Homo sapiens: one gene and its partners. The protein of the gene in region 2 interacts with the protein of the main gene of each other region in a pairwise test. Each region holds a gene or a part of one and is shown on either strand. Other genes may lie near its edges. The genes, in order: RBM10, PRDM14, AKAP9 and EIF4E2.

Region 1 (7,024 bases), on a different chromosome or scaffold from region 2:
TCCACCTTTTGAGTCTCCATTTAATGCCATCACTGAGTGGGTTCCAGATAAAAAGGGGGAGTTTGGCCCAATTTTCTCTTGCTCTCATGCATGCTCTCTTGCCCTTTGCCATGTTATGATGCGGCAAGAAGGCCCTCACCAGATGCCAACACCACTGGGCTTCCCTGCCTACAGAACTGTGAGCCAAATCAATCTCTTTTCCTTATAAATTACCCAGTCTGTGGTATTGTTATGGAGCAGCAAATGGATGAAGACACTCCTCTTCCCCTGACATACACCCACGCTGTCACATTTGTTGTGCATTTCCATTTTATCATTTAAAAATGCATAGGAATGTTTATTTGTGTATAACTTTATATGCATGACACAATGCCACATTCTATATTTCCATGTTCCCCCCAGCACAGCACCATTTTTAGAATTCATCAGGTTGCTAAGGTAACACTTAGTGCTTGCTTGTAAACGCTACGCTCACAGTGTCACACCCTTTCTCCACAGAGAGACACTGAGGTGCCCTCCATCTGCCCACTCCCACAAAACATTGCAGGGCTTTTTTCCTGCCCACCCCCTTATGGCCTGTGAGAATTTCTCTGGCATACATGTATATTCACCAGCAGAATGTGAGGGTCCCCACCATGGGACAGAAGACACCTGACAGGGCTCACTCGGATGGCACAAGCCACCTCCTGGAGTTGGGCAACCCTGCCACACACTGAGGAGACTGCTCTGGCTCAAGGCCATTCAGCAAAGAGCAGAGCTGGGGCAAGAGCATGGTCTGCTAAGCAGTCACTGCCCACATCCACACCTGCCCGCCATCTCCCTTGGCAGGAGAGGGCAAGAGCTGACAGAGTGCCGTTGCTGGAAGACACCACACAGCCAGCCAGTGACTGCTGGACCCTGGTGTTCACCTGTTGAGCTGTCTTGGTCTTGTGCTTCTCCTTCTTCTCTTTGCCCTCCTTCGAGGGTGCCCCTGTCTCCTTATGTCCGTCGGCCGACTGCTCCAGGGCGGGAACATAGGTCCGCCTCTCCCCATCCCAGTACAGGTACTGCTGGCTCTGAGCATTGTAGTAATACTGAGGGAGGAGGAGGGAAGAGGGGATGTGAGGGAAGACCTTGTGAAGGGAACCTGCAGGGCTAGCTGTTCCTGACGCGACCTGACCCGATCCCATCCCTCCCTGGGCTGCCCTATTACCTGGGAGTTGGGGTCATAGTAGAGGCCGGTCTGGGGGTCATAGTAGTAGCCGGAGGTCTCATCGTACTGGTAGGTAGAGACGTCGGGAACAGCTAGGGGGTGAGGGGAACGGGGTCACACTATTCCCTGCTTTATTAAGAACTCCCCACCCCTACCCACAGGCTGTGGCTACTCACGGTACTGGCTGTAGGATTCCTGGGCAGTGGGGCTGGTAGCCGGTGGGAGAGCAGAACTAGGATGGGTAGGGCTCTGGAGCTCAGATTTGAGCACAGCGGGTGACATGATGGTATACGACTGGTCATGGGGCCAGACAGGAGAACAGGGCTCAGTGTCTGCCCATGCCACCCCTGCCGCCTGCCTGCCTCCCCGGGATACATACCCACAGGGCTCACTCACCTGGCTGTTGGCAGCAGTGCCCTGGCTACTGCTCGCCTCGGCTGATTGTTGGTAGATGCCAGGAGCAGCACCAGGCTGGGCGCGAGAGAAAGCCTGCATCGACACAGAGTCGGCCCCAGGCTCTAGGGAGGCCTCGGGACCTGTAAGGAGGGACAGGGCAGGGACAATGCCTGTGAATAATGGGGCCGGGGACTTTATGCCTGCTGGCCCCCACCACAGCTGCAGAGAGAGATGCTGGGGCTCACCTGCTCCAGTGGGATCCCCTTTGGTTCCAGTGATGCCAGGGCCCTTGGTGCCCTTGAGGTAGCCATGGGCATAGAGGGAAGACTCTGTGCCCTGGCTGTTGCCATAGCCCTCATCCTGTTGGTAGTAGCTGTAGTCGACCGGCGGCTCCTCGGAGGTGGCCCAGGTACCCTCCCCACCTTGGGAGGCCTGAAGGGCAGGTGGGAGGGGTTCATTAGAACAGGAAGGTGTGGGGGTGGGGGGTGGGGAACCTGCTAGAAGCATCTGTCCCACACGTGGGGCTAGTATTTCTACCTGACAGACAAAGCATGCAGCCTTAAGACAAGTGGAAAGCGAGGGTTGCCTGGCCACAAGAGAACAAATAGGCCAGTGGCAAACACAAGACAGAAAAACAGATGAACGCCAAAATGTTCCAGGGCTGATTCTGCTGATTCTGCTGTGTGTGGCGTGTGTGTTGGGTGTCAGGCCAAGGAAGACACCATCTTCTTACTTCTTTATTCTCTTCTCCCAATTTTCTCTCAACCACTTATACGTTATTTTTATTCAGGAACATATGATACGTGTATATCATATATGTATATATTACATATAAGGATATGTGTATATCATACCTATTCAGGACAATAAAAACCCCACCAAACAGCACAGAATGCCAGGCACAATGGCGTCGTACATGAGCGCATGGGAGGCAATTGGGAAGAAAGCTGCGGTGATGATGAAGGGGAATGTCCCAGGGGGTCTAGAGAGCCAGGAGCAAGGTAGAATAGCCATGCCAGCTACTGGGAGAGGGTTTTGCATCCATGGATAGCAAGCCAGCCTTCCTGCTTCAGAGAGGGTGCAGGAGGGTTGAGAAAGCCCAGGTCTCAGGACGCTGGGAGGCACAAGGGGTCTGAGTACCTGTGAGATGGCCCACTGGGCCGCAGCAATGGCAGTGCTGGCCACAGAGGCAGCACTGATGCGACTGCCTTCATTGGAGGCCATGTCCCTGAGGAGGATGTTAGAGACTGGGAGTGAGATAGGAGGCCCCAAGCGGTAGGGGGGAGTGGGAGGGTGGGGAGGGGAAGGGTGGGAAGGCACACAGGTGGGGCCCTGACCTCTTAGAACCCTTGGCAAACTCAACATTGATGGTCTTGCCGTCGATAGTGAGTGGTGGGTGCAGGGCCTGCAGGATCTGCAGCAGCTGGGCTGCCTCCTGTGGGAGGAGGGGAGGCAGGGACAGAAGGGTCAGGCCCGGGGAGGCCCCCGGCTCCATTGCCCGATTTCCAGGCTGGCAGCCGCGGTGGGAGGCTGGGGAAAAGGACCCTCGTCTCCACCCCGGGGGCCGGGACCCTGGCTGCCCGGCCCCCAACTGTGCCGCCCTCACCACGATGGTGGAGAGCTGGATGAAGGCAAAGCCGCGGTTCAGTTGGGTCTGCTTGTCCTTTATGACGCGCACGTTGGAGGAGGACAGCACCGCGTAGGGTGCCAGGGCCCCCAGGATGGAATCCATGGTGCTGTGTGGGTTCAGGTTGCGCAAAATGATGGCTGTGGGAAGGGGCCCAATGTTAGAGGACACCCCTGGCACTCTTGCCAGCCCTGCCCTTCAATGCCCCCACTGCTCCCTTTCCTCTGCCCCCACTCACTCCGTGCCTTTGCAACTGCCGCTTCCCTCACTGCTTCCTCCAGGATCAACTCTGCTTGGCGGTCCAGGTGCCAGCCTGGCTGCCTGTCTGCTGAGAACCTTCCCGACACACCCCCAAAGTCAGGTGGGATGTTGCCACTCCCCCTGTTCTCCCTACATCAAATGTCTATCCCCGCACCAAGTGGAGATTCCATGAGGATGAGGTCCTGCTCACTGCCATTTCTCTGGTCTTGGTGAGCCCAGCCCGACACCCTAGGGCACAGAGGAAGAAGGAACAACTGACTCACTGTCATTGGCGTTCTCTGAGCTTGGCTCCGAGCCCTGTGACAGGGCTTGGGAGGCCAGGACTCCCTGGGCCTGGTAGGGCTGCGGCAGGGGAAGCAGGCCCTGGCTCAGCTCCCGGCCACCCAGTGGCAGTGTCTGCTGATCCAGCCTCGTGCCGAGGGGCAGCTTCTGCTCTGCCTCTGTCAGGGGCAGTGGGAGACAGGCTGGTGATAAGGGGAAGGCTCCACGACTGGTCACCCTCCTCCCTATACCAAGCCCTGAGCACAGACCCCTCACCCTTCCCTTCTCCCCAACCGCTCCGCCCTGGAGAGCACGAGAGGTAGGTGGGCCTCACCTGACTTGGGCACGCCACATTTGAAGCACTTCTCTCGGCGTTTGAAGTTCTGGACGCCACACTGTGAGGCACAGGCCAGGCCGTCAGAGGGAGCAGGGATTTCCCACTGCACCCTCCAAACTTGGATGAAGAGATCTCCCAGGGACCCCGCAGTGCCCCAGGAAGGAAAGCCCCTAGGCAATGGTGGCAGGTGCCTTCTGAACCTTCTGATGTTGTTCTCAGTACTGTGCATCTTCCCTTTCCAGACTCTCATTTGTCCTCTGTGCCAACCCACTCAGCTCAGGAATAAACAACTCCCCCATTTGGTACAACAACTCCCTCCTCTCCTTCCTCTGCCTTCTTAAGGCCACCAACTCCCAGGACTGTTCCCCGCCTCAGGTATTCAATCCCTTTATTAGGTTCCTCTCCCTGAAACTTGCTCCTCTATTCAGAAACCTTTCAGTGTTTCAGCCCTAGAAGTCAGTAGCCAGACCCGCACCCCTCCTCTTAGCTCTAGGACTGGGTTGGATCCTGCTACGCTTGAGAAATTTTCCTTGAATGTTCCAGCATCTGGAGACCCAGCTTCTACCACACTCCATCTCTGTTCCAGACTCAGGTACTAAGCACCACTCCTGGGCCAGGCCCTGCTGCACATGGCCAGAACATGGTCTCTGCCCTCATGGCCTAATAGCACAGGGGCAGATGCAGCATGAAGAGGGGCAGGTCGGTCTGCATGGACCATCCAGCAGGGGCTCGGGGAGGGAAATGGGCTGGGGGTGGGGTGCCATTTACTCGGCAGGGACAGTCCCTGCACAGAAGCAGGGAGGTTTGACCTGGGATGCCCAGAAGTTTCATTTTGTTAAGCCTTGCTGGGGAGGGATTGTTATCGGAGGGAACAATGGACTTTCCGAAACTGGTGTGGGAGAGTAAGGGGAGAAGCAAAAGCCAAGGCCGGGGAAGGAAGCCAGTTAGGTAATGGAGGATCTTATGCTTAAGCTGAGCTGGGGCTGGTTAAGCAGAGGAGGAGAGGCGTGGGTAGTCAGAGGTGGTTTTGAGGAATGTTCCAGGTGAGGGCGTGGGAGAAAGAGGACAAGAGGCCAGCATACCAGAGAGGGCTCCACAGTGAGTGGGTGAGAGCGTGACGATTGGCATGAGCAGCGGGAATGGCGAGGGAGGGAAGGTGGCGTTTCTGTGATGGAAGTGACAGGACCTGGTGGCCAACAGGATGCAGGGGAGGGGAAGGAGTTCAAGAGAATTCCCTGGTTTTGGGCTGGGCGTGGTGGCTCACGCCTGTAATCCCAGCACTTTGGGAGGCTGAGGCGTGAGGACTGCTTGAGCTCAGGAGTTCAAGACCAGCCTGGCAAACATGACGAAACCCTGTCTCTACCAAAAAAAATAAAAATAAAAAGGCAAAAATTAGTGGGTGTGGTGGCATGCGCCTGTGGTCCCAGCTACTCTGGAGGCTGATGGCTTGAGCGCTGGAGACAGAGGTTGCAGTGAGCCCAGATTGCTGCACTCCAGCCTGGGCGACAGAGCCAGATCCTGTCTCAAAAAAAAAAAAAAGAGAATTCCCTGGTTTTGAGGCTATCTGGAAACACAGGAAGGAGTTCCACTGTCACTTTGTCTTTATCTCTCCAGAAATGTTAAGCACCAATCCTCTGATGGGACTTTTTTTTTTAAAACAGATGCACCACTCTCCCTGACTAGGCAGAGTACTTCCTGGGGAGAGGGTTGGGGCCTCTACAAACTGTGGAATCACAATGCTGGCCCCAGGGCAGACCTGAAGCCACTGTGGCATCCAAGTCCCTGTGATCAGGAGCAAGGCACAGGGCACAGCTAAAGGTTCACCCATGGTTCCACCTCTCTGAGCCTCAGCTTCCCCTCAGGGAAGACAGAGGTGACTACAAAACCACAGCCTCCAGTTTCAGGTTTGACTTGGCCTGGTCAGAGTGGCCTTCAGGCTTGAGCTACCTGCTATGGGCTCTCAGAACGCTCTGTGCTTTTCTTTCATGATTACAGTTAACAATTCGACTGTGTTAAATGTGGGCCAGGCACTGTTCTGAGTGTTACTCTCTCATTAACACAGCTGAATCCTCCCAACCACCTTTTGGGAGAGGTGTCATTAATATTCACATTTTAGAGATGGGGAAAGTGAGGCAAAGAGAGGCTAAGCACCTTGGCCAAAATCAAGGCCGATCTGGGATAGTCTCATTTCAGCCAGTCTGGCTCTGAAGCCCACATTCTCCACACCACCACTTCAAGTCTACACTGTCACTAATTCATCATCCACGTATATATTTCCTTAAAGTCTACTGGAACTCCAGGCAAGACTGCATTTTAGGAGGACAGAGCCTGCACCAAGTGAACGCTCACTACACATTTGTATATGGCTGGCTAGGAATGGTGACTACTCAAGCTGAGCTAGCAAGGGATAGAGAATGAGAGAGAGAGAGAGAGAGAGAGAGAGAGACAGAGGGAGAGGAGAGATTGGGGGAGGGGGAGAGATGGAGGGAGAAAGAGCGGGAGAGGAAGGGAGAGATCGCCGCCACTGCTGTTGCTGTCTCTGTCCATGACAACTGCTGCCCACCGCCCCTGTACCTTATTGCACAGCCAGTCCTCATTGATCTTGGGCTTGGGGTCACTGTAGTGCATCGACACCTTCTGGCCCAGGATGTTGAGGGAGTGCTGCGGGAAAAAGCAGAGCACAGTGAGGTCCAGGCAGCAGTGCCCCACGCACCGTTTCAGCATAGGAGAAGAGAGTGAGCGAGCCCTTCAGCTGGATGGATGAGGGACAGGGAACGGAGGGAGGTCGGAGAGCGGATGGAGGGAAGAAGGGAGGTAGGGAGGGAAAGCGCCACAGCTCTCGGGCGCAGCTGTTTGCTGCTCTGCCGGGCACACGCACGCACACATGTGAACACACACCACCAGGCACACAGTGTTCGGCTGACCGACGCTTGCCGGACAGTGGGGAGAA
Region 2 (7,256 bases):
ATCACAGAATTGTCTCCGTAGGTCTTCACTTCACTGGCATTGACCACTTTACCTTGAAAGGGCCCAAACCTGACTCCTTTGGCGATAAAACTACTGCAGAACACACCAAAATGTGGGACTTCACCAAACACCGTCTGCATGAGGCATAGACCTAGGGGAAAGCCGAGGCAGGAAAAGAGAATGAGGAGAGTTGACTCTGCATTAGTTCAGGGAAAGAAATCCATGCAAGGAGTCCTGCCTACCTTCTGGAAGTTGAAGGGAGTCTTTATCCAGAGTTTGAGGAAGAGAATCAGATCCTAGCAAAAGGCAGGTTAAAACAATTTTTCATTAAAAATGCATTATAAAGTGCTTTTATGAGGTGTTTCCCTCCTTAATTCCCTAAAGGTAACCATCATCCCAGTTTGATATTTATTTGTTGTTTCTATTTTTCCCTGCTCATTTTACATGGTCTGTTCATACACGATTTCACTGTAAACAATTCCATATACAATTTCTCATTTGAGACTCAGAACAGCCTCATGGAAGTTTATGTAATTAACCCCATTAGGCAAATTCAAGGAATTTGAGGATCAGAGGTAATGCCTGACTAAGGTCAGCGTAGCTAGCTGAGCTGGGACTGTTAGGTGTGAACTGCTGAAGGCTGTCATTGCATGTTAGCATAGAATCTGAACCTACCTGGGAGTTCGCTGCAGGAACCATTTCTCTCTTGGTCCTCAGCTCTCACTAAAACCAACCTTAGTCATGCAGTTAAGCAAGCAGGGCCTCAGAAGTGAGCCTAGAACAGCCCTGGCTCTCATGGAGGTACTTCCCCCTTCCCGCACTCTGCAGCCTCAGCTCCACCTGGAAGCGCCTCTTCCCGGACACTCCCGTTCCCGCCTGCATTCCCGTCCAATTCGACTCCCAAATGGTGTGAACTCCCTTTACCAGAGCTGTCTGGGGGGACCAGGAGGCCTGAAATCGCATGGTGCAGGCTGGCTGGGTGCTCCAGGCTGGGAGTGACCCCGTACAGAACGAAGTGCAGGTCCTCCTCCGTGAACTGGAACCGAGCAGGGGACTTCCCTTCTTGGTTGGAGGGTTTGGGACCATCCTCTGACTGCTTGCTGGGTGAGCAAGGTAATAACTGGGAGGTCCTCAGCCCCTCAGGTAACAGAGAAGCATCCGCAGGGGGCGGTGGAATTAAAGTGTCAGGTCCACAACACGGGCCACTCTCGTTGTCGCCACCAATGATTTGGTGGCCCAGATCTTCACTGCTGGCACCCGCGTACTCGTGGCTGCTGCTCAGGAAGGGCGGCACTTCCCTGGGGACGTGGGGAATTGGGTACCACGGTGGCAGCTTGCTGTACCAGGGCAGATCGTAGAGAGGCTCCCTCTGTAGGCCCAGACCCGGGCTCAGCAAGGGAGGCGCCATCCGGAAGGGGAAGGGGGGCATGGCGGGGGCAGCAGACGCTGCGGCCTCCAGCTGCCGGAAAGGTTGGAAGTCTTCCTCCACGGTGGCCAGGCTGTTTCTGTAGTGTCCATAGGACGGGAAAGGCGTGTAGTACGCGGCCAGGTTCTGCGGGCTGCTCTCCGGCGGGTAGCACACCTTGTCCTGAGGCACGGCCTCACTTGGCCGGGGTAGAGCCATCCCGGGACCGCACGCTCGGCGGCTCTGCAGAAAAGCGGGCGCCGCTGAGGACACCGCGCGGGAGCTTCCCGGGGTCCGACCCGCGCCTCCCCACCAGCCTCCTCCACCCCAGCCAGCCCCAGATCCAAGGGAACAGGATAAACGCCCCCAGTCCGATCCCGCCAGCCCGCTCCCACAATTAAGACAAAACGAAAAAACAGCAATAGAAGCAAACACAAAAAAGCCCCAAACGGAAATCTGCCGGGATCCTGCCCTACTCTAAATTCCGGGTTAGTGTTGCCTTCCCCTTCCCTCTCCAAGCACCCCTTCCCTAAGCCCGGCCGCCTTCCCACACCCGCTCTCCGCTTTCGGCCCCCAACCCGGTTCCTGCAAAACCCATTGAAGTTCCCTTTCCTTCCTTCTTCTCAGTCCTACAAAACTCGTTGGTAGGGTCTGTGGGAGCCGCGGGGCCCTGCCAACCTCGGGGCTGGGCCGGGAGCCGAGCGCAGGCGGTCGGAGGGCAATGGAGCAAGCGACAGCTCCAGGCGCTCCTGGGCCCTCGGCTGGGAGGGAAGAGCCGAGGACCCTGGGTCGCACCGCGCAGATGGAGACGCGCTCCCAGAGCCCCCGGGCAGGTCCAGGGACCCCGCGACCTGCTCTGGCCCAGCGGTGTGACCCCGCGGGTCCTGGCGGTCCTGACTGCCCGCAGGGGAGGGGCGCGCCACTTTTGGCTGCCCTAGGATGCGCCGCCTGAACCTCTTTTCCCTCGCGGGCAGCGTCCGCCACATTCCCCGGGTTCCTCGGAAACTCCAATCATTCTACCAGGACTATTGGGGCCTGGGGTAGCCCCTCGGGAGCCGCGTGGACGAGCCCTGGCCAGGTGGGAGCGAAGAGCCTCGGCGACTGCCAGTCCTCCCGCCCCCGCACCGCCGGGAAAGGATGGCGTTTTAATAGACAGGCAGCAAGTTCACCGAGGCTGAAGAATGAAGCCCCTTCAGGGCCGGCGGGTCTTGAGATCAATGAGCCCAATAAGAAAACCAAGCAGGGTCATGACTCAGAAATTAAAGAACACGGGGTCAGGAGAAGAGGTCAGCCACGACACAGGCAGCGGCCCGTCTCCTCCCGATCCTCCAAAGGCGCCCTTCTCCTAGCCTCCTCCGACCTCAGGGATCTGCAACTTGGGATTCAAAGCCCCCGAGAGGGCAGAACGACCATCCAAAACGAACTGCGCCAGCGAGTGCTGCCGCCCTCCCCAACGGCCCTGGAAGACCACCGCCCCGGGCCCCAGGCGCGTCCTGTCCCGTGCCTACCTCCGACACCACCTCCAAGAGCGCCACCGCGGAGCGGGCGCCTCCTGGACGCTGCGGGGCCACTCGGGCTCGGTAGGCCACTCGGGCTCGGTAGACTTCGGGCGGGCCCTGAGGGCTGAGCCAGGCTTAAGAGGGCGGGCGGGGCCGCGGGGCATCGACAGGTCGAGGGTAGGGAATTGACCCGGCCCACGCAGATCCCCGCGTCGTCTTCTCCCCGCCCACCGCAGCCATTGGCCGACTCTCGACTCGCCCTCTGTCCCCTGGGGTCGCTCACTTAACTCATCAGTTTTCCAAACCCTCCCTGGGACCCTAGTGGCGAGCACTCGCCGCTGGCCTTCTAGGGCAGGCAGTATTGCCGCTCCAGGCGTGCGGAGTCGGGGAGAAAAAAACCGAACACGTGTGCTACCCAGGGCCCCCAGATAAGCCCCTCCGCGCGCACACACACCCTGAACCGGAGTCCAGAAGGCCGGACTCGCGTCCCGGGGTCGAGCCCCTTACTCTCCGCTCCCAGTTCGGAAGATCCCAGCCTGCCCGAAGGCGGCGTCTGACCCGCTGGTGGACCTGGTGGGTGTCTGTTCCTGATACCTGGGGACGAGGCGGGAGCGCCTTGAGCGCTGGGAAGCTTCGCCTCGCGAGTCCCCGGCAGTGACACGTGGGAGCGTTGGGCCCGGCACCCCCGACGCTTCCGAGGTTTCGGGTGGTCGTTTTGCTCTCTCGGGGGCTTTTATTCCTTAAGTGGCTTTAAACGACCGAGGATGGGCCTCCCGCGCCGCCGCAGCTGTCACTTCCTTCGGGAAAGGCTAGCGACCTTGGACGCGCAGGCTCTGAAAACCAAGGTCCAGACCCATACCGAGCGCCCAAAGACCGCATTTGAATTCTCCTCGCCGGCCATTGAGGGAGAGAAAGGAACGCTTAGTTCCATTCACATTCACAGAAAGAAGCGCCGAGGGTGGGGGAAACGCAGTCTTGCCGGGTGAGCCGGGACAGGTTCCTCGCCTGCCCCCCGGCCGCTGCTTCCTCTTAGCTGAATGGGGAGCGACCCGCCCCGGGCGCGGCCTTCGGGGCTGAAGACTGAGGTGCAGCCTCACCCCCGGCCTGGCAGCGGCTTGGAAGAGAGAGGGAAAGGAGGAACATCTACCCGGCTAAGAGACGCCGCCAGAGTCCCTAAAGCTGGCGGGGGACGGAGGCCGGGGTCCCGGATCTTCAGAGCGCCCGCAGCCGGGCTTCTGGGCTCCTCGGTGCGGGGAACCTGACCCTGTAGCCTTCGCCAGGGCGCGGCGGGGCTGCAAGAAGGGAGGAAGGAGTGGGACTAGAGCCTTCGAGGGCGCGGGCGGCGTGCACTCAGCCTTGTCTCCCCGCGCGCCCTGCCGCCTGCTTGCCCCCTTTGCTGCACCGGGTGGCCCTGGTCCCCGCGCCCGCCCGCCCCCGACGCCTTCGCGTGGTTCCGCGCTGCCCGCGGCCAGCCCCGTTTCGCTTCGCAAGGAGCGTGTTGTTTTCTCAATCGAAATGGGATCAAGATCCCAGGGTTTCCTCGTCTCCTTGTTTTGAGGTGATAGGATCTTAGCCAATAGATCGAAAACGTGAAAAGTACCCGTCGCCTCTTGTCCCAAGTGCCTCTGTGGAAGGATCATTTACTTGGAAAAGCAGAATAAATTCTGTTGCCGTTTTCCTTCCGGAGGCGTGCTCACCCCAGAGCTCCTAGACCCACTGGCATTCGCTATACTTCCTCCTGGGCTTTACAGGTAGGATTTCAAGAATGATATGGGGGCACCTGGGTGATCTGTGGGTTGCAGGTCCTCAAGAGGCCGTTTTTTCGTGCACGGAAGTGTCGTAGCTTTATTTTAGCGGAAGCAATATCAAACCTTATCTTAGAGGTTTGTTTTGCAAAGAATCCAGAGTTTACTATATTTGACACTATTTTAAAATAACACTTGCTTGTTTTAAGAAGTTGGGAGAAATCGATAAAAGAAAAGTTGAAATCCATGCTTCCCATTTCTACTCTAGGAGATAATCCTGATCAACAGTTTGGTTTGCTCCCTACCCCCATTCCTTAAAAACAAACAAACAAACAAACAAACCAAAACCCACTATACTTTTAGATTGTGTAGGATTACGTAGGATTTTGTAAAAATAAAAATGGGATTATACTTCACTCGTTTCTGCAACGGCCTAGCTCCTACTAGTAATCATTCCCTATCAGTATAGTAGAATTAACCTTATTTTAGTATTATCATTATTATTTTGAGACAGGGTCTCACTTTGTCACCCAGGCTGGAGTACAGTGGCATGATCTTGGCTCATTGCAGCCTCTGCCTCCTGGGCTCAAGCTGTCCTCCCGTCTCACCACCCGGCCCCTTCCCCTCAACTAGCTGGGACTACAGTCATGCGCCACCAAGCCCGGCTAATTTTTGTATATTTTTGTGGAGACAGGTTTCACCATGTTGCCCAGGCTGATCTCAAACTACTGAACTCAAGGGATCCACCCACCTTGGCCTCCCAAATTGCTGGGATGGCAGACCTGAGCCACCACACCGGCAAATTTATTCTTTATAATGGTTGCGTGGTACAGAATTTCCATTTTATAGGTGTGCTCATAGTTTATCAGCCTCCTCTTGAAAGGTATTTAAGTTGTTGCCAGTTTTTCAATACTTCTGGCAGTGTACAGAAACACTGATACAGATACATAGTTGTGCTACTGTGCCTTGTAGAAGAAATATCCAGGTGTGAAGTTGCTGGATCAACAGGTATAAACACTGATCATTTAAACAAGTACTTCAAGACTGGGCGCAGTGGCTCACACCTGTAACCCCAGCACTTTGGGAGGTTTAAGTGGGTGGATCACTAGAGGTCAGGAGTTCAAGACCAGCCTGGCCAACATGGTGAAACCCCATCTCTACTAAAAATACGAACATTAGCCAAGCATGGTGGCACAAGCCTGTAATCCCAGTTACTCGGAGGGCTGAGGCAGGAGACTAGCTTGAATCCAGGAGGCAGAGGTTGCAGTGAGTCAAGATCACGCCACTGCACTCCAGCCTGGGTGACAGAGTGAGATTCTGCCTCAAAAAATACAAAATAAACAAGTACTTCAAACCATACCAATTTATACTTCCTCCAGCAGTGAGGGCAAGTGCCTATTTCTCCATGCTTCATCTAATACCGAATATTGCCATTCCTTTTTTTTTTTTTTGAGACAGGGTCTCACTCTGTCGCCCAGGCTACAGTGCACCTCAACTGCCCCAGCTCAAGCGATCCTCTCATCTCAGCCTGTCTAATTTTGTGTTTTTTGTAGAGACAGGGATTTCACCATGTTGCCCAGGCTGATGTCAAACTCCTAAGTTCAAGTGATCCACCTGCCTCAGCCTCCCAAAGTGCTGGGATTACAGACATGTGCCACCACGCCCGGCCTTAAATTTTTTTTTCTTTCATAGAGACAGGCCCTCACTCTGTCACTTAGTCTGGAATGCAGCAGCATGATTGCGGCTCACTACTGCCTCCAACTCCTGGGTTCAAGCAATTGTCCTGTGTCAGCCTCCCCAGGAGCTAGGACTACAGGTATGTGCCACCACACCCGCCTAACCTTTTAATTTTTGGTAGAGGCGGGGGTCTTGCTATATTGCCTAGGCTAGTCTCAAATTCCTTGTGTAAAGCCATCCTCCCACCTCAGCCTCCCAAAGTACTGGGATTACACGTGTGAGCTACCACACCTTGGGAGTATTGCCAATTCTTTAAAGCTGCCTGTCTTTCACATAAGAAGTAAAATCGTATTCTAATTGCCTTTTAGTCATTTACATAACAAAGTTTCTTTTGAATGCCTGCCTATTGATGAGCCAGTCAGCAAGCCAAGCATAGGGAATACAATTGTGAACAAAGCAGTCTTGATCCCCTTAAAAGCCTAATGAAGAAGGTCTGTATGTGTGTGAATACTTGATGAATGAGTCACTATGAACTGCAATAAGGAGGGAAGAAAGTGTAGTACAAGTAACGAGCCTCAGTCTAGGCTGGGAGTACAGGAGGGTTCTCCCAACCTATCAAATTGGAAAGATGTGTAGAAATGAACTTGGTGAAGGGGATGAGGACAAGTGGTACTCCAGGGCCACAGAACCCTTGGTGCTAAGGCCTTAAGCCTGGAGGAAGCTTGGCTGATTCACAGAACTGGTGCCAGGAGACAGCTTGAGGTTGGAATGTCAGCAGACACCAGGTCTTGCAGAGAACACTTGCTAAGATGTAAGTATCCTTACAGCTTTACTTCCAAGTATTCACCAAGAAGTAGTAAGAAGTCACTGCAGACATCAGCATACTTCATCACTAAAGAACTTCAGCATGCATATCATTAAATCAAATTC
Region 3 (7,024 bases), on a different chromosome or scaffold from region 2:
GAGTTTCTGTAACTTTCAGCCAAAACTCATTATTTCATATATAAACTCCTAGTAGATATTTCCTAATGCAGTTTTAACATATTTTCTAATATCTTGCCATTTAGAAGAAGATCTACTAATTTATTTGGCTCTCAAGAAATGGAGTAGAGGATATAAACGGCGTAAGAATTAACTGAGATCTCTGCCCCATGCCCACTGCAATCCCCACAAGGTCTCCACACACAAAATTTGATTCATGATACATATGGAGAACTACTATTTTAGTTATAATTGATCCCTGTCACTATCTTCTCTGGGGAAACAACTAATAAGGCAATACTAACTTGAATAAAAGTGAGACCCTAGCCTGGACGTTGTGGCTCACGCCTGTAATCCCAGCACTTTGGGAGGCCGAGGCAGGCGGATCATGAGGTCAGGAGATTGAGACCATACTGGCTAACACAGTGAAACCCCGTCTCTACTAAAAATACAGAAAAATTAGCCGGGCTTGGCAGCGTGCACCTGTGGTCCCAGCTGCTGGGGAGGCTGAGGCAGGAGAATGGCGTGAACCCGGGAGGCAGAGCTTGCACTGAGCCGAGATAGTGCCACTGCACTCCAGCCTGGGTGACAGAGCAAGACTCTGTCTCAAAAAAAAAAAAAAAAAAAAGTGAGACCCTGGAGGAATAAATACAGCCTAACCACAGAGCCCACAATGAGCAATCCTAGTAAACAACAAGGAATTTTATAGTGTGTTCAGTACTAATAGGAGAGAGAGCCTAGATTTTATACCCTATTAGTTTTTCAGAGATCTGTAAATCAGAGAACCTATGAAATCAATCTTTACAGATTAGGACTTTGTATAGTAAAGTTGATTATAGTTCTGAATCATCAAAACAATAATCTTGGGGGCTTTAAGAAATTATTTCTTAAAAGGGGGAAAAACTCTTAGACTTTTACAGAGAAACTTTCACACCACACAAAAATCTCAGAGAACAGTAAACCACAATAAGAATCTTAACTCTGATGGTAACTGAAAACAAACACTACATTGTTAGTGAACAAGGAGGAAAAAGGAATTTTACATATTACAAAAGAATCTATAAATTTAAACAAAGAACCTAAGCAAAACTACTCCTGAAATAATGTTAAATTTTTGAATACTCTGAATATTGAACACTTTTGAATACTGTTAAACCCATGCAAAAATCAACCAAAGCTTTATGCAATGTACCTAGAAGGGCACTAAGTGTTGTAAGTTACAGTTTGGTGATGACTAAGACAAAAAATAAAAGGGGTGTCAATATGACAACAAAGACATCTCATACTAGTGAAGTAGCTACAGATCCCCCATGTTTAAAATGACAGGTCTTTTCATTTTTGAACACTAAGTTACTTTTTTCTCACAGTGTAAATGGACTGGCAATGATCAAGCCAAAAATCCAACAGGTGCCCCTTTAACCAACTGCATGCACTTGTAAAACAGCTGCTCATGGAATGGAATGACTCACTGGCCAACAAAGAAATCAAGCTTCAGCATCATGCTGTTATCAACTCACCAAGAACCTATCACTCAAAGGAAGCAACAATTTAAATTTTGGCAAAGCCCAAAAAGCCTAAAAATATATATATATGGAAGATAATCCCACTGGGGATACGTATTTCTACCCATTCCTCTCTGGTGCTTGAGTGCACACGTTCTCTCTCTCTCCACACATACGGAAAGGATATATATATATTTTATATACATATATAATTAATATTAGATAAAAGAAGTTGGTAACAACCCAATTAAAAAATGGGCAAGGGATATTAATAGACATTTCTCTAAAGAAGATCTACAAATGGGCTAGGCGCAGTGGCTCAGGCCTGTAATCCCAGCACTTTGGGAGGCCGAGGTGGGCAGATCACCTGAGGTCAGGAGTTCAAGACCAGCCTGGCCAACATGGTGAAATCCCATTTCTGCTAAAAATACAAAAAAATTAATCGGGCATGGTGGTGGATGCCTGTAATCACAGCTACTGGGGAGGCTGAGGCGGGCAGATCACCTGAGGTCAGGAGTTCAAGACCAGCCTGGCCAACATGGTGAAACCCCATCTCTGCTAAAAATACAAAAAAATTAATCGGGCATGGTGGTGGATGCCTGTAATCCCATCTACTAGGGAGGCTGAGGCAGGAGAATCACTTGAACCCAGGAGGTGGAGGTTGCAGTGAGCTGAGGTTGCGCCATTGCACTCAAGCCTGGGAGACAAGAGCAAAACTCCATCTCAAAAAAAAAAAAAAAAAAAAAAAGAAATCTACAAGTGGCCAAAAAGTGCATTAAAAGATGATACTCAATATCATTATTCATTAGGAAAATACAAACCAAAACCACAATTAGAAACCACTTAATACCCACAAGGATGAGTATTAAAAAAACAAAAAAACAAAACAAACAAACAAAAAAAACAGAAAACACAACTGTTAATGAGGTTATGGGAAAATTGGAATGTCCTATACATTGCTGATGGGAAGGTAAAATGGTACAGTCACTATGGAAACAGTTTGGCAGTTCCTCAAAAAGTTGAAATATAACTACCATATGACCTTGCTCAGTTCTACTACTAGGTATATACCCAAGAGAAATGAAAACAGGTACTCAAATACATCCATACAAATGTTCACAGCAGCACTATTCACAATAGCCAAAAGACAGAAACAACCCAAATGCCTATCATTGGACAAATTATGGTATATACATACAATGGAATATTATTCAGCCATAAAAAGGAATGAAGTACTGATATATGCAGCAAAATGGATGAACCTTGAAAACATACTAAGTGAAAGAAGCCAGACACAAAGGGTCACATATTATATGATTCCTTTCATATTAAATATCTACAACTGGTAAATCCAGAGAGTGCGTTGGTGATTGTTAGTGGCTAGAGGGAAGAAGCAATGAAGAATATCTGCTTAATGGGCACAGGGTTATATTTTGAGATGGAAAGATGTTTGGGAAGTAGACAGAAGCAGTAGTTGCATAAGATTGTGTTAAGCCACTGTGTTAAGTTCACTTAAAGATGGTTAATTTTGCTTATGAATTTCACCTCAATTAAAAAAAATTATAGCTTCTTTATATCTAGCACCTAGAGAACTCAAAAAGCTCCCAACCATTATTTCATTTATCCTTCAAAACACCTGTTGAGGTACACATCATAAGATTATTCCAACAGACAATAAGGCACAGAATTTGTGATCATTTAAATAAATGTTTGCGGCCGGGCGCGGTTGCTCACGCCTGTAATCCCAGCACTTTGGGAGGCCAAGGTGGACGGATCACAAGGTCAGGAGTTTGAGACCAGCCTGGCCAATATGGTGAAACCCTGTCTCTACTAAAAATAAAAACCTAGCCGGGTGTGGTGGTGGGCGCCTGTAGTCCCAGCTACTCGGGAGGCTGAGGCAGGAGAATAGCTAGAACCCAGGAGGTGGAGGTTGCAGTGAGCCGAGATCGTGCCACTGCACTCCAGCCTGGGTGACAGAGTGAGACTCCATCTCGGGGGGAAAAAAAAATGCTTGCTAAGTAAAAGTTCATAGCTGCAGTCGTAGGCATTCAAAAATGTTGGTTGAACAAATGAACACATAAATGTCTCCAAAGTCCTAGTGCCATTTCTACCAGACCAGATAGCAGTATTATAAATTCTCTTTCTCCCTCTCTCCAGCACACACACACACACACACACGCACACACACACACACACCCCAGACACCAAACCACTTTTATAAATAAGTTTTGAAAAATTCCGTAGCTTTTCCAAATTATAGTTTTTAAATGGATGTTAAGCAATTACATAAAGTGACTAATCTTAATTTTAGTGGAATCTTACTAAGAAATGAATATAAATAATGTCCCTTATTGTTTAGCAATTTACCATAACCTTTTCTAGCTATATTAGAAGAAATTCATTTACATTTCAATATTCAGTAGCCTATAATAGATATTTTGTAGACATAGTTTAGCTTTTACTATGAACCTTTTTATTTATAAAATAAGAGATGTTTTTGTTTGAAAAAATTTTTGTTCCATTCTTGTCATATTTCAATCACTTGGATGTATCCTACCTTTTTCACTTCCTCTTTCCATGAGCTATCATTCAACTTTCAGTTTCACTGACAGGGCATCACGTTCCTTCCTCCACATTCTCTCTCTAAACACCATGTTTTGCTTCATTCCGACAAAGCCTAAGCTGGGTGCAGTGGGTCACCCCTATAATCTCGGCACTTTGGGAGGTTAAGGCAGGAGGATTGCTTGAGCCCAGGAGTTCAAGACCAGCCTGGGCAACATGGTGAAATCCCATCTCTACAAAAAAATTTTAACAATTAGCCAGGTGTGGTGGTGCACATCTGTAGTCCCAGGTGCTCAGGAGGTTGAGGCAGGAGGATCACTTGAGCTCAGGAGGTCAAGGCAGGCTGCCACTCCAGCCTGGACAACACAGCGAGATCTCGTCTCAAAAAAAAAAAAAGCCTGAAGGTTATGAATTAGTTTTAAGTCACAGGCACTGCACTATTGCTGCAATAAATGTTGATGAAGCTATCAAACTGCTGCATCTACTCGGAATGCTAAGTAAGCTCTGCCACATCTAAGTATGAAAAACTAGAATGCTTAAAACAGGAAGGGAAAACACTTTCTTAGCTGTGGAACAAAGTATCTGAAATATGCAAAGAACAGTTTTACACCATAACCAGCTTTGTCTATCACAGTGGAAACAGTAACTGAAAAGTCCTGCTATCAATAATCAATATACAGCTTGCATGGAGCACCATCCTTTTTTTTGTACACAATTGGAACTACTCTTCACACTGAAAATGTTTGTTAAACAAAAGTCATGTAATTACAAATTACTGAATATAATAGACAGTAGTTTTTTATAATTATTCAGCAAATAATGCCCATTATATAAAATACTGAATAACTTTAAAAAGTATACCTAATGCAAATTTACATGAGTAATAATTTTATATTAAATATACAACTGTCCTCTATTTAATTCTGTTCACTTAAATTACAATACTTCCTTTACGTGCCATGAATAATTATACTTGGAAAAAAATGAAGTCATTTAAAATGGAGTTAAAATAGTTTGGTTCAACACAAGGACAACCTATGTAGTGCCATCCTCGTCAAAACACTGCAGAGGGAGCTAGCCCAGCTCTGAAAATATTTACTTAATACATAATGCAGTAATGTCTCACATCTCCCAGGGTCATGCTTCTTGCAACATCAATACTGAGGAAATAGCTGAGGACCCAACAGTAAACCAAAACAACCAACAAGCAGCAGAAAAACTAAACTGCCCTAAAGCCCACTGGGCAGGCTACACTGGCCTCTGTTTTTGTTTTGTTTTGTTTTTTGAGACAGAGTCTTGCTCTGTCACCCAGGCTGGAGTACAGTGGCACAACCTCGGTTCACTGCAACCTCCACCTCCTGGGTTCAAGTGATTCTCCTGCCTCCACCTCCCCAGTAGCTGGGATTAGTACCTGCCACCACGCCTGGCTAATTTTTTTGTATTTTTTAGTAGAGACGGGGTTTTGCCATGTTGGCCAGGCTGGTCTCAAACTCCTGACCTCAGATGATCCACCCACCTCAACCTCCTAAAGTGCTTGGATTACAGGTGTGAGCCACTGCGCCCCACCTGTTTTGTTTTTTATACTTTTTTCTTTTTAGAGATGGGGTCTCACTACATTGCCCAGGCTGATCTAGAACCTCTGGGCTCAAGCGATCCTCCCACCTCAGCCTCCCAGTGTTGGGATTACAGGAGTGAGCCATCACACCCCGCCTAAGGTCTTTGTTGTTGTTGTTTTTTCTTTTTACATAGTATTCTGTCAACCTCAGTTCTGGGTTCCTTAGTCGTAGCAAATCTAAAACAGCAAATTAGGAAAAGAGGCAGATGAGGAGTAAGAGCATGCCCATAGCAATACGAACTAACAGCAAGGAAAGAATAAGCACAACAAAAACAGAAAGGAAATCTATAAAATGTCTAACAATATAATCCCAACTATATTATACACTCTGCACTGAAATAGCAATTACAATTCCAGGCCTACGCTAAAATAGGAAACCTAGTTATTCTGTGCCTCATTTTCCTGTTCTGGATAATGGTCATACACTATAACATGTGTTTAATATAATGTATTTGATAAGCCTTTATGTTTTTTAAAAAATGGCATTTGAGGCTGAGTGCAGTGGCTCATGCCTGTAATCCCAGCACTTTGGGAGGTCGAGGCAGGCAGATCACTTAACGGCAGGAGTTCGAGACCAGCCTGGCCAACATGGTGAAACCCCATCTCTACTAAAAATACAAAAATTAGCCAGGCGTGGTGGTAAATGCCTGTAATCCCAGCTACTTGGGAGGCTGAGGCAGGAGAATCGCTTGAACCTGGGAGGTGGAGGCTGCAGTGAGCCAAGATCCTGCCACTGCACTCCAGCCTGGGAGACAGGCTGTCTCAAAAAAAAAAAAAATGGCATTTGAATATTCTTTTCTGGTCATAAAAGAGATACATTGTATCAAGAATTTGGAAAATACTAAAAGTATAAAGAAAATTAAAATTGCCTATAAGCCACCACCCAGAGATAGCCACGATTTACATCTTGGTGCTTTTTTTCAGGTGTCTTCATATTTAAATATGTACATATACCTTTTCCTGGTAACTTTTTTCTTTTTAACCTGGCATTATTTGTGGGCATTTTCCACACTCAAAAAGTCTTTGTAGAATTATTTTACATATCATAATTTATTAACCCATTATTACAGATTTGGGGTAGTATAAAACATTTTATACAGTATACTATATATTATACTGCATACATGACAAACTGTTTAAAAAGTGATCATTTATAAGGTTTAGATACAGAAAGGGAATTTTCCAATGGAACTGTTTATCAATAAATTACCCCCAAAAAGATTTGTAAGTTGTGGTTTGCAAAACTAGATTATCAAATACAATACTTAAGTCCAGTGAACAAATGAGACATTTGCAGAATGAAGTCTCAGATAAACTTTGGAAAATG
Region 4 (7,024 bases), on a different chromosome or scaffold from region 2:
CTTCTAAGAGTCAGCTCTATACACAAGGAAATGGAGTCATTCCTGATAAGTAGTCAGTATCCCAGGACAAAGAAAATAGACTGAAGCTAACAAGTTAAAAAGACATGCAGAAGTGGGGTGAGGGTGGGCAGGGTGAAATTATCTTAAAAAACAGCAAGAAAAAGAAAAGCACTTGTCTTTCATTTTAAGATAGTGGTTAGCATATGAAAGACAAGACAGCCTGTAGAAATTAAGCAAGCCCAGGTAGTACAACTGGGTTTCTGCAGATGGGCTCTCTCTGCTACAAAGCACCTGGTAGTATAGGTGGCAGGGAGCCTCGCTGACAAAGAACTGCAGCAAGTAGCCAGAAGCCCTAGAGGGAAGGCCTGGTCTGTCCCTTCTCCACAAGTAAGTCTCCTGTCCGGCCATATTCCTCTGGGCCCAACTACAGATCTACTTATACTAAGCTTAGGGACACGTCCTCCCATAACCCCCCAACACGTACTTGATGCTGTCGGTGTGAGTTTTGTATTCCATAATGGTGTTGGGAGGTAGGTTAAGCACTCGCCGAAGTGTGTCCCGGATTCGGGCTGTGGTTGCTTGGTCACTGGCAGTCTTATTCCATATTGAAATAATGTCTTCCTACCAGAGGAACAGAAGGAATCATCAAAGCAAATCAGGGGCAGCGAGGAGAGCAAAGGCAACACAAGAAACCAGCCTGGCTCATGGGTGGCTTACCTGAAAGCGGACAGACACCACAGCCCCACAGATCTCCTCCCCAACCATGAACTGTTCCCCCAGCATGGCCAAAATGAGATTCTCCCAGCAACGGGAGGCCAAGCCCTTCCGCAGCCGAATAATCCACTTGCCACCATTTTTATTTGCATCATCCTGTAAAAAGACAGAAAGCACTGAAGTTAAAATATGGTTTCACAGCCTTTTTTTGTATGAAGGCAGTAAAAAGCCAAGAATCTCTTAAACACTAAGAAGTCATATCACTTTCCAATTATTCAACTCTATAGAAAAACTGATGGTAGGACTAGGGAGAGAAGAAATGGGGAAAAAAAGAAAAACAAGGCTGGGATCCTTGGCATAAGCCATTTATTAAAATGGCTAAACAGACCTTTTAAAAATAATCCCCTTTACTGGAAATACTTTAGGAATCAAAACGAAATGATGTCATATTTCAAGCACAGATCATCCGTTTACTTGCTAAAAGTACTGAATGTCTGCTGGGCGCAGTGGCTCACGCCCGTAATCCCAACACTTTGGAAGGCTGAGGTGGGCGAATCACGAGGTGAGGAGATCGAGACCATCCTGGCTGACACGGTGAAACCGCGTCTCTACTAAAAATACAAAAACAAAATTAGCCGGGCATGGTGGTGGGCGCCTGTAGTCCCAGCTACTCGGGAGGCTGAGGCGGGAGAATGGCGTGAACTCGGGAGGCAGAGCTTGCAGGGAGCCGAGATCGTGCCACTGCACTCCCGCCTGGGAAACACAGCAAGACTCCGTCTCAAAAAACAAAACAAAACAAAACAACAACGACGACAAAAAAAAGTACTGACTGTCACTACATACCAAGTACACAGACATGAAGCCCCAATCTAGTTTTTTTTTTTTTCTTTTTTGCGATGGAGTCTCCCGCTGTCACCCAGTCTGGAGTGCAGTGGTGCGATATCGGCTCACTGCCACTTCTGCCTCTTGGGTTCAAGCGATTCTCCTGTCTCTGCCTCCTGGGTAGCTGGGACTACAGGCACATGCCACCACACCCGGCTAATTATTGTATTTTTAGTAGAGACAGGGTTTCACCATATTGGCCAGGCTGGTCTCGAACCCTTGACCTCGTGATCTGTCTGCCTCGGATTCCCAAAGTGCTGGGATTACAGGAGTGAGCCACTGCGCCTGGCTGAAGCCCCAATCTCTACTCAGATCCAGTCCAGTAGAAGAGACAGCCAAGGATATTAATTACAGCAATGATACTATAATTATAAGTGCTGCTGTTAACAGATATGCACACTATGTTAAGGAAGAACAAGATAGTTGGAAACAGTCAAGAAGTGGGTCTTTTTTTTTCTTTTCTTTTTTTGAGATGGAGTCTCGCTCTGTCACCCAGGCTGGAGTGCAGTGGCACAATCTTGGCTCAGTGCAACCTCCACCTCCTGGGTTCAAGTGAGTCTCCTGTCTCAGCCTCCCGAGTAGCTGGGATTACAGGCGCGTGCCACCACACCTGGCTAATTTTTGTATTTTTAGTAGAGACGGGGTTTCACCATGTTGGCCAGGCTGGCCTCAAACTCCTGACCTCAGGTGATCTGTCCACCTCGACCTCCCAAAGTGCTGGGATTACAGGCATGGGCCACCATGCCCTGCCAAGAAGTGGGTCTTAAGGTCAACGGGAGTGAGTCAGGAAAAGCAGCTGAAGGGCACTGCGGGCACTGGGAAGAACATGTCTGTGCATAAACTGACAGGAGGGTCCACCTGCAGGGAAGGGAAGATTTAGAGATGATGGGAGATGAGGCTTGAAAGGTAAATGAGGTGCAAGATCATGTGAGCAATGAGGAGCTGTATAAGATGGGTGGCGTGGATGTGACCACATTTGTCTTCTCGAAAAATGCCATGGCACCAGAATAGAAGATGCACTACACCAGGGCGCAGCCGAATACTGGCTCTGCAAAGTTCTAGGTCTCCAGTTCCTGCCTTTAAACTTATTTTCTTACCCACTTTAATCATATGTGTACTATGTAAAAATATTACACACACGCACAAACAAGTTCTATAAGGATAAAGGTAACTGAAAACAAAAATCCTTTAATGTTCTAATACCATTTTAGTCATAAAACAGTCTTTAAAAAACACCCAGCACCAACCCACACAGACAAAAAATGGCATCAGTGCATTTCTCTAGAGGCTCGGGTTCCAAGGATATACTGGAGAGTGATGCAGTTTTGAGAGACTTTAAAACACTTTTAACCAGCTGGGCACGGTGGCTCACGCCTGTAATCCCAGCATTTTGGGAGTCCAAGGCGGGCGGATCACGAGGTCAGGAGATCGAGACCATCCTGGCTAACACGGTGAAACTCCGTCTCTACTAAAAAACACAAAAAATTAGCCGGGCGCGGTGGTGGGCGCCTGTAGTCCCAGCTACTAGGGAGGCTGAGGCAAGAGAATGGCGTGAACCTGGGAGGCGGAGCTTGCAGTGAGCCGAGATCGCGCCACTGCGCTCAGCCTGGGTGACAGAGCGACACTCCGTCTCAAATAAAATAAAATAAAATAAAATAAAATAAAATACTTTTAACCTTGGCAGGGCTAAGAGACAAAACAAAAAAACCCAAACTTGCTCAAAAAAGCAGTCAGAAGCCATTAGTCCTTACCTCCCACATGGGTTTAATTCCTTCTTTGAAGAGATGGAAGTCACTGTGGCCTGTCAGGTCCCCAGGACGTACCATGTGGCTATAAAACCTCCAGAACTGCTCCACCTGCAGAGAGAAGACCCCAGAGTAAAAAACATGTGTCTTTTACTTTTCTTTGAATGCATCCCAAGGTTGAGATTTAGTTAAGAACATAAGCATGGAAGACACTATACTACAGGCTGTCCTTTTCAGAGGACTCATTTTCATGTGTGGTGTTGTGAGGGAAGACATATTAGAGGAAAAACATACCATCTAGTTTGACAAAATAAAAAATGTAACATTCGCAATTCAAGAATAAAATCTTTGGTGAGAAATGCAAGCCTCAGCCAGGAGCTTTAGTTGGTGAAACCATGTTAATACGCACTCTCCCACTCAAGCTGCAGGGTAGTCATCACATGCAGTAAGAGGACCAGGTTTTTGCACAATGGAAACTCTTTAGCCTTGAGGTATGTAAGTGTCACACAGCCTCAGCCTGAATGCATTTTTTAGAACCAAATCACTTACCGATGAAAGATTGTTTAACTGGCAAATATAGCATTTGCTGAATGAAATACCTCTTAGACCTGTTTAGTTAGTAAGCATAAGTGATAGAATCAACCACATGTAAATACCTCTTAGACCTGTTTAGTTACTAAGCGTAAGTGATAGAATCAACCACATGTACCACACATACCACTCTACATCATGGTGCTGTTGCTAAGTCCAGGCCAATCCAAAATCATACAGGACTTAGCTTCTCATAGCTAGGGTTTAAGGCCCTCTTCTTAGCTAGAAAAATTATGTTTCTCCTTGCCGCTCCTTCACAATCCCGTGAGAAAACTAGATTTATATTTTTCCATCAAGTATATGCTTATTTGTATTCATCACAGTAGTCCTGTTTTTCTCATTAGTGTCACCCCCCCTCCCCTTAAAAAAAAAGAAAAAAAAAAGAGACAGGGTCTACGCAGCAGTATGATCATAGCTCATCACAGCCTCTAACTCCTGGTGTCAAGGGATCCTCCCATCTCAGCCTCCCAAGTAGCTGGGACTACAGGTTCACTAGTGTCTTGATAGGAAAGATTATTTCCTTATTCACAGAGGATACGTAGTAAGTACTGGCCAGTGAAGAGGCACACTTTAGGAGGAAAGAGAAAACACGGAACATTCCAATGAGAAATAGCTGGTATCTGCTAAACTGCTGAGCAGGCTCTAAATCAACATACAGCAAGATACCACAACTGTGGAGCTGACAATGGGTATCGAGTAGACAAAGATTCAGGTCATACTTCTAGATATGGGGAGCACCTAAGGAGAAATCAGCCTTACACTGCGTGAAATGGCTGTCCCTTTAGTTCCTCTCTAGCACAAGCACACGTGATGCATCTTACATGGTAAAAAGAAGTCAGAACTAACGCCATCTATAGGGCTTCAAGGCAGTGCTTTATACTCAGCAACTGCTAAGCTTAGCTGCATGTAGTGACTCGGAATAGTAAATGGTCATATGAATACAATCGGCAATAATGTAAACCTTTATCCACCCTAACATAGTTGAATAAAACCACATATACCCACTAGAACCAAGTACACCCACTAGTGGCTCATTGTGAATAAGGAACTGAAAGGGGCTTGGTGAGGACAAAGTATGTCAACCATCTCCAGTTCCCCAGTCAATAATCGCTTTAACAGTTTGGTCTCCCCAATCTTACAACTACACTGCACAATCTTTTTTTTGTTTGTTTTTTTGAGATGGAGTTTCGCTCTTTTTGTCCAGGCTGGAGTGCAATGGTGCAGCCTGCCTCAGCTCACTGCAACCTCTGCCTTCTGGGTTCAAGTGATTCTCCTGCCTCAGCCTCCCGAGTAGCTGGGACTACAGGCACACACCACCACGCCTGGCTAATTTTTGTATTTTTAGTAGATGGGGTTTCACCATTCACCATGTTAGCCAGGCTGGTCTCGAACTCCTGACCTCAGGTGATCCACCTGCCTTGGCCTTCCAAAGTGTTGTGATTACAGGCGTGAGCCACCGCGCCCAGCCCCACTGCACAATCTTATATGCAAACCATAAGAGAGATGAAGTTAAACAGCTCGAGACTATCATTCATTCATTCATTCATCATTTGAGATGGGGTCTTGCTCTGTTACCCAGGCTGGAGTGCAGCAGTGTGATCATGGCTCACTGCAGCCTCGACTTCCCAGGCTCAAGCAATCCTCCTGCCTCAGCCTCCTGAGTAGCTGGGACCACAAGTGGGCACCACCATGCCCAGCTATTTTTTTACTTTTTTTGTAGAGATGAAGTCTAACACTGTTGCCAGGCTGGTCTTGAAGTCCTGGATTCAAGTGATCCTCCCTCCTTGGCCTCCCTGAGTGCTGGGACTACAGGCATTAGCTACTGTGCCTGGCCTGAGAAATATTATTAAACTTTAAAAGATTTGACAGTTCTAATTGAAACCAAAAAAAAAAATAAGCATTCACAGACTCAGAATATGAGGTGCCGAAAGGACCTCAGAAATCATGTCAGCAACTTGTTTTATAGTTGAGAAAGGTTTCAGGACTGAGTTGCTCTAACCAAGAGGGTCAAGCATCAGAATAGGTGAGCTCTGATTACCAAGTCTAGTGCTCTTTCCATTTCAAGATGATGCCTTCCTAGTCACTCTGACTTCAAGAACTTTTAAATGTTGTTAATGATTAGGCTAAGAATCACTGGGAAACACTGCTTTCAATTTGATAAAAGGATTCATAATGTAATTATTTATCTGTGATGCATTTAATATTGTGAGCCATTTCCTAGTGACCTGAATTACACAACAGACTTTATTTCTATTTTTCAGGTCCAGACCTACAGAGTCAAAATGACAGACTTTAAATACTGTCACACATCCAGTGAGCATGGATGAAGCCTTAACCCAAGATAGTCCTGATGATAAACCACTCCTTAACATATACACTGAAACAAAAGAAAAACCCTCCTCGTACAATTTGGGTAAATTCTTATATGCTTTTTTTTTTCACAAGAGGGAAATAAAAATGCAAGAAGTATGCATAATTACTCCAAAAAAATCTTTTTTTGAGATAAGATCTCACTATGTTGCCCAGGCTGGTTTTGAACTCCTGGCTTCAAGCGATCCTCCCACCTTGGCCTCCCGAAGTGCTGGGATTACAGGCATGAGCTACCAGGCCTGGCCAAATTCTTTAAAATCAATCTTAAACCCATCTCTTCCAAGGCAGTATTCCCCAAACTGGAATCAATTCCTTCTTTCCTCCAAACTCCAAGAGCACTCTAAATGCCTTTCCCATAGTATCACTTACTGTCTTCCCTGTATTAGAAATTCCTGGGCACATCTTATTTCCCCAAGGACAGGATCTGTGCCTTCATTCCTTTTAGAAGCCTACTAGAGCCTTGAATTCATTCAACAAGCATTTATTGAACCAAATATGAACCAGTGCACAAGGTAGTTTATTATTACAAAACCCCTAAGTTTGCTGATTCTAAGATAGCACTGGCAAACTAAACAAGATCTTTGCTTTAGGCTGAAATTTTATCAGCTCAGCATAGTAATGATGTTGATTTCATATTAAGCAGATTATAACTGAGTTGTAAGAGTATTCTAGATACAAGTATTAGATATGATTTGCAATATTTTCTCCCATTTTGTAGGCTA

Evidence for each region.
Region 1: the proteins of PRDM14 (region 2) and RBM10 interact in binary tests that used the Homo sapiens proteins (3 or more experiments, as listed by UniProt).
Region 3: the proteins of PRDM14 (region 2) and AKAP9 interact in binary tests that used the Homo sapiens proteins (3 or more experiments, as listed by UniProt).
Region 4: the proteins of PRDM14 (region 2) and EIF4E2 interact in binary tests that used the Homo sapiens proteins (3 or more experiments, as listed by UniProt).

The regions. Positions count from the first base shown.
Region 1 is NC_000023.11:47,176,211-47,183,234, reverse strand, and holds part of RBM10 (RNA-binding protein 10), read right to left. Parts: intron 6,736-7,024; coding exon 6,649-6,735; intron 4,133-6,648; coding exon 4,072-4,132; intron 3,917-4,071; coding exon 3,740-3,916; intron 3,690-3,739; exon of another isoform or gene 3,454-3,689; intron 3,356-3,453; coding exon 3,195-3,355; intron 3,024-3,194; coding exon 2,926-3,023; intron 2,817-2,925; coding exon 2,729-2,816; intron 2,021-2,728; coding exon 1,834-2,020; intron 1,729-1,833; coding exon 1,589-1,728; intron 1,487-1,588; coding exon 1,369-1,486; intron 1,285-1,368; coding exon 1,193-1,284; intron 1,074-1,192; coding exon 909-1,073; intron 1-908. UniProt on the Homo sapiens protein: Binds to ssRNA containing the consensus sequence 5'-AGGUAA-3'. May be involved in post-transcriptional processing, most probably in mRNA splicing. Binds to RNA homopolymers, with a preference for poly(G) and poly(U) and little for poly(A).
Region 2 is NC_000008.11:70,068,237-70,075,492, forward strand, and holds the start of PRDM14 (PR domain zinc finger protein 14), read right to left. Parts: upstream 3,017-7,256; 5' UTR 2,914-3,016; intron 1,649-2,913; 5' UTR 1,625-1,648; coding exon 925-1,624; intron 297-924; coding exon 243-296; intron 152-242; coding exon 1-151. UniProt on the Homo sapiens protein: Transcription factor that has both positive and negative roles on transcription. Required for the maintenance of embryonic stem cell identity and the reacquisition of pluripotency in somatic cells.
Region 3 is NC_000007.14:91,943,850-91,950,873, reverse strand, and holds part of AKAP9 (A-kinase anchor protein 9), read right to left. Parts: intron 1-7,024. UniProt on the Homo sapiens protein: Scaffolding protein that assembles several protein kinases and phosphatases on the centrosome and Golgi apparatus. Required to maintain the integrity of the Golgi apparatus. Required for microtubule nucleation at the cis-side of the Golgi apparatus.
Region 4 is NC_000002.12:232,560,675-232,567,698, reverse strand, and holds part of EIF4E2 (eukaryotic translation initiation factor 4E type 2), read right to left. Parts: intron 3,453-7,024; coding exon 3,348-3,452; intron 871-3,347; coding exon 718-870; intron 622-717; coding exon 485-621; intron 1-484. UniProt on the Homo sapiens protein: Recognizes and binds the 7-methylguanosine-containing mRNA cap during an early step in the initiation. Acts as a repressor of translation initiation.